Regions from separate parts of the Homo sapiens genome. Here region 1 is linked to region 2. Evidence: fine-mapped expression QTL. Tissue or cell type: tibial artery. Region 2 holds a variant in brackets; the other region holds the start of a gene. All regions are shown on one strand. Distances are from middle to middle.

Region 1 (2,921 bases), 28 kb after region 2:
GTTTTAATCCTTTGTCTACTTTAGGTTTGTCATCTTTCAAACCTAAGGTTAAGAATCTCTTAATCATTGAAGCATTTGGGAGTAAGGGGTTAGGGGGTGTCCTTACTTCCAAAACTGACCCATTCCTGCATGTCTCCGTGTATTTCCACAGCCTGCTCCCAGAGCACTCATTAACTTGTCATTGTCTTTCTTATCCACCATTCCTAGACCACTGTTCTTCAAGACAGGGATGATAAGCAACCCATCTTTGCATTTTTAGCACCTGCCCCAGGGTCCAGCAAACAAAATACAATAAAAAAAAATGTTGAACAAGTGAATAAAAAAGTTTGTAATTTCCAAAATAAGGTTTAAAGATCCCAGATACAGAAGGCCCTCAGTAAATAAAGGCTGAAAAAACTGAAAGATGTGTGAGTATCCCTTGTTTAACTCCAAAGTTCAGCGTACAAAGTTGTTAGAAAAGAGATTGATGAAAGGAGGAAAAAAGGAAGTCGGATGACAAGAAGCATTTCTGGAAAGTCTAACATGCTATAAATGACGATCCAGTTGCCTAAAAGAGCGGTGGGGTGAGAAAGCTCCTGGCAAATTCAGACTGGAGTAGATGGAGTGCGCACACGTTGGCATTCAGGGAGAGCTTTTCAAGAATGAAAGAAAACCCCTACTCACCCAAATAGAAGCTGTCCGGACCCTGGTGGCCATCCCTACGGTCAGTTTTGTGTGCCTCGCTGGAAGTGACAGGACGCGAGGGATGCTAGAAGAGAGAGCACAGTGAAGAAAGAGGTCACCCAGCAGTCCCCAAACCCAGAGGGGGAGGGTCCGAGGCACCAGGGCTGCCTGCCATTCTCGGAGCTGAGGCTCCTTCCCTCCCACAGCACGGGATTCACCATCTCCACACCCTCACCAACACACAGGTTAGGGTCAGGCAACCGCCCCGGGTCAGCAGCAGGAGAGAGCTAAGGCAGATTAGTTCTGTCCCGTCCCGCCGCCTTGAAACCGGAGGAATTCCGCACCTCCGGCTCCTCCAAACCCTGAAGGGGCAGCAGAATAGAGTCCAGGGTACTGCCTCCACCTCCAGATCTGCAGCCAGAAGGGTTCGCAACCACTCCAGACTCGGCTGGCCCGTTGACCACGACGGGCGATGAACGCTATCTGAGGAACAAGGATCTCGCCATCGGCGCGGAACAATGGCGGCCGCTACGTATGTCGCACAGGAATTGCGTCATGGAGAGGCAAAGGCAAAAAAACTACAACTCCCAGAGGCCTCTGCGAGGAGTTACTCCCGCGCCGGAGGGCTCCGGCCAAGGGCCACCGGGAGGGGGCGTGCTAAGATGACCCGGAAGCTCAGGCCTTCCTGGCCAGGTCCCTGAGCTCCCGCGCTTGCAGGTTTTAAATTTTAAAGAGAATTAAAATACTTGACACCAATGGCTCAACGGTTGGAGGGATGTAAATTAGGTTACAAGTGTTCTAGTCCCTGCTTTACTGAAATGGTAAAAGTCTTATTTTGCTTTACACTTTAATAACAGATTCGTAAAATTCCCATTACATGTTAACATAAATAATATTTTAATGAAAATTACATATATTTTACAAAAGAAAAAATTTAGTAAGGAGTGGCTTCGCTTTTTAAGTCTTTTCTGACTTACTAGAAAGCTGGATTCTCATATCTGCTTCTATGTTTAATCTGTTGCGTATGTTGTTTTTGTTAAAGTATATAAAGATACAAGTCGAACAAGGGATAGTTTTGTTAGTGTACAATCTGAAACCACGTAGATGAACTTTTTCTACTCTATTACATAAAATCCGTTGGTCTACACTGCACTTTGAATGGATTCTTTTATCACGCATGATTTCGTAACATCATGTATTGGCCAGTTGGAAAATATTGGTTTACTTTAATGGCAAAAGCCGCAATTACTTACTTTTGCACCAACGGAAAATATCCACTAATCATTATTGATCTTAAGTATTGGGAAGAGGTGACATTCACAGAGGCAGATACAAGTTTTCTAGAATTCTTTTGTTTTTGGCTTTTAAAAACTTTTATAAATTTATGAGGTACAAGTGTAATTTTGTTACATGCATCAGTTGTGTAGTGGTGATGTCAAGGCTTTTAAGGTATCCACGCCCTATAGTACGTTATATGCATTGTACCAGTCAGGTAATTTATGATTATCCCTGAAACCCCCCCACACCTTTTGAGTCTTCATTGTCTATCATCCCACACTCTACATCCATGTGTACATATCCTTTAGCTCATACTTAAAGTGAAAACATGTGTTTTTCTTTCTGTGCCTGAGTTGTTTCACTGAAGATAGTGGCCACTAGTTCCATCCATGATGCTGCAAAAGACAATTTCATTCTTTCTTATGGCTGAATAGTATTCCATTGTGTATATATAACACATTTTCTTTATTCATCCATTCATGGACATTTAGGTTAATTCCATACCTGTGATATTGTGAATAGTGCTGTGATAAACATATGAGTGCAGGTATTTTTTTTATATATATAATGATTTCCTTTGGGTAGATACTCAGTAACAGGATTGCTTTATCAAATGGTAATTCTATTTTTAGTTCTTTGAGAATTCTCCACACTGTTTTCCATAGGTTATACTAATTTCACTTTCTCACCAACAGTGTATAGGAGTTTCCTTTTCTCCACATCCTCACCAACATCTTCTTTGTCTTTTTATTTTTATTATTTTATTTTATTTTTTGAGACGGAGTTTTGCTCTTGTTACCCAGGCTAGAGTGCAGTGGCCCGATCTCGGCTCACCGCAACCTCCGCCCAGGTTCAAGCAATTCTCCTGCCTCAGCCTCCTGAGTAGCTGGGATTACAGGCATGCACCACCACACCCGGCTAATTTTGTATTTTTAGTGGAGACAGGTTTCTCCATGTTGGTCAGGCTGGTCGCAAACTCC
Region 2 (2,921 bases):
GTTTCTCTTCAGGACTGACCTAGGGACCCTAGTGGGGCAAATCCACAGTGAGGTTCTGAGCTTCCTTCTCCTCAGGACCAACCTGGGGACCCCTGGGAGGTAGATCACAGTGATGACCAGAGTATCCTCCTCAGGACTGACCCGTGGTGGGGGATGCAACCACAGTGAGGACTAAAGCTTCCTTTTCCTCACAACCTGGGGACCCCCTAGGGGGATACATCACAGTGAGATCCAGAGCTTCCATATCTGAAGACTCCTGTAGGGTACACCCACAGTGACGACCAGTGCACTTTCCGGACCAATCTGGGGCGATGTCATCTCACCTTTGGGATACATGGAGGCCACAGGAGGAAAAGATGAGGAAAAGTGAGGCCTGCACCCTGAGTGCTGAGGAGGGAGCTTTGCTGTTTCACTTTGCCCTGTAATATCTGAACAAGATTTATTTTAGGAAATCGTACCTCTATTGAGGTTTCCACTAGTCATCTTTATAGCAAGCCCAACTACTTTTTATACATATGGGTTTGTTTCTGGGGAGAAATCCCAGTACAAAAAAAGGGAGAAACACTGCGACAAAACACTGCAACAGTCCAGGTCAAAGTTGGGGATGAACAGCACCTGTGGGATCACCCTGGATCCCAAGAGGGAAGGGCAAATGTGCACCCTATGTGCTTGCTTTTATTAATTTTTTTTGAAGGAGTCTCACTCTGCTGCCCGGGCTGGAGTGCAATGGCACAATCTCAGCTCACTGCAACCTCCGCCTCTCCAGTTCAAGCAATTCTCCTGAGTAGCTTGGATTATAGATGCATGCCACCACAGCTGGCCAATTTTTGTATTTTTAGTAGAGACGGGGTTTCACCAGGCTGGTCTCGAACTCCTGACCTCAAGTCATCCACCTGCCTCAGCCTCACAAAATGCTGAGATTACAGGCATGAGCCACCATGCCCAGCCTTTTTATTAATGTTTTAATGGCCTGTGTTTCTAACAAGTAGTTGAAACAATGTTGAAAATTAAAGAGTAGACATGTTAAAACTTGCAACTTCATTTAAATTTAAATATATCATTTATACCAAAATCAGAATTTATTTAAGATTTATGGCTGGGTGCTTGGCTCACACCTGTAATCCTAGCACTTTGGGAGGCCAAGGCAGGTGGACTGCTTGAGCCCAGGAGTTTGAAACCAGACTGGAAAACATGGTAAAACCCCATCTCTACAAGAAATAAATAACTCTACCTGGCCCTTTAGCAAAGAATTAAGAAAAATCAATACAGACCAGTGGCTCACACCTGTAATCCCAGCACTTTGGGAGGCTGAGGGTGGATCACGAGGTCAGGAGTTCAAGACCAGCCTGGCCAACATGGTGAAACCCCATCTCTACTAAAAACACAAAAATTAGCTGGGCGTGGTGGCGTGTGCCTGTAATTCCAGCTACTAGGGAGGCTGAGGCAGGAGAATTGCTTGAACCCAGGAGGCAGAGGTTGCAGTGAGCCAAGAACACACCACTGCACTCCAGCCTGGCAATACAGCGAGACTCCATCTCAAAAAAAAAAAAAAAAATGCAAATACTATGCCATATAAGGAGCTTGAGCATCCACAGGGAGTATCTGTGGTTG[C/G]GGGGGGGTCCTCCATGAATACTGACAACTGCATACTTGCTACTCTACTGGCAGTTCCAAACATTTGTTTGTGGTTTATTTTGGGTTTCCTAATTACACGATCACATCTCCAATTCATGGCAGTTGTTTCTGCACCCATCCCTAATTCCTCACATTCCTTGTTTTCACACCTTGGCTAGATGTTACTCATTTCATAAAAGTGATGCGCATTCTTGTAATTTTGCTTTGTTTTTTACAGACAGGGTCTCACTTTGTTGCCCAGGATGGAGTGCAGGGGCATGATCATAGCTCACTGTAGCCTTGAACTACTGGACTCAAGCTAACCTCCTGCCTCAGCCTCCTCAGTAGGTGGGACTACCGGCACTTGCCACTACACCTGGCTGATCTTTTTTTTGAGATGGAGGCTTGTTCTGTCGCCCAGCCTGGAGTGCAGTGGTGCAATCTTGGCTCACTGCAACTGCCACCTCCTAGGTTCAAGCAATTCTTCTGCCTCAGCCTCCCGAGTAGATGGGATTACAGGCACGTGCCACCACACCTGGCTGACTTTTGTATTTTTAGTAGAGACGGGGTTTCACCATGTTAGCCACACTGGTCTTGAAATCCTGACCTCAAGTGATCTGCCCACCTCGGCCTCCCAAAGTGCTGGGATTACAGGCATGAGCCACGGCGCCTGACCACACCTGGCTAATCTTTTTAAAAAGTTTTTGTACAGACAGGGTCTCCCTATATTGGTCAGGCTTGTCTCGAACTCCTGGGTTCCAGCAATCCTCCAGCCTCAGCCTTCCCAAGTGCTGGTATTACATGGATGAGCCACTGCACCTGGCTAATTTTACTTTAAAGGAATCTTTCTACTATTTTATCATTAAGTATGACATTTGTGTTTTCAGAACATATATTCCCTACCAAGTTACAGGAGTTAATTTTAATTCCCAACTTAATAGTATTTTAGTGTCATCTATGGGTGTTAAATTCCATCAAGTGATTTATCAGCATATACTGAGATAATCCTTATGAGTTTTATCTGGTAGTTAATTAAAATATTTTCTAATATTAAATCTTCCAAACATACTCTTCTGTTTTTTGAGACAGGGTCTAGTTCTGTCACCCAGGGTGGAGTACAGTGGTACGATCTCAGCTCACTGCAACTTCCGCCTCCTAGATTCAAGTGATTCTCCCGTCCCAGCCTCCCAAGTAGCTGGGATTATAGGTGTCAGTTACCATGCCCTGCTATTTTTTTGTATTTTTAGTAGAGAGGGGTTTCACCATGTTGGCCAGGCTGGTCTCAAACTCCTGACCTCAGGTGATCCACC

The links. PIP is the estimated chance that this variant, and not a neighbour inherited with it, causes the effect.
Region 1: it holds the start of ZNF268, and the variant in region 2 is fine-mapped to the expression of ZNF268 in tibial artery (GTEx, PIP above 0.99).

What each region holds. Positions count from the first base shown.
Region 1 is chr12:133,179,773-133,182,693 of GRCh38, reverse strand. ZNF268 (zinc finger protein 268) reads right to left here and starts at 1,199. Exons shown (of 6, transcript NM_003415.3): 1 at 1,008-1,199; 2 at 664-748. The coding sequence starts at 696. RefSeq lists enhancers at 812-1,011, 1,052-1,361, 957-1,481.
Region 2 is chr12:133,207,580-133,210,500 of GRCh38, reverse strand. ZNF268 (zinc finger protein 268) reads right to left here. Exons shown (of 6, transcript NM_003415.3): 6 at 1-2,921. Among named protein-coding and RNA genes, the nearest start is that of ANHX, 27 kb to the left of the region's middle. The variant C/G (reference allele first, on the strand shown) is at 1,612.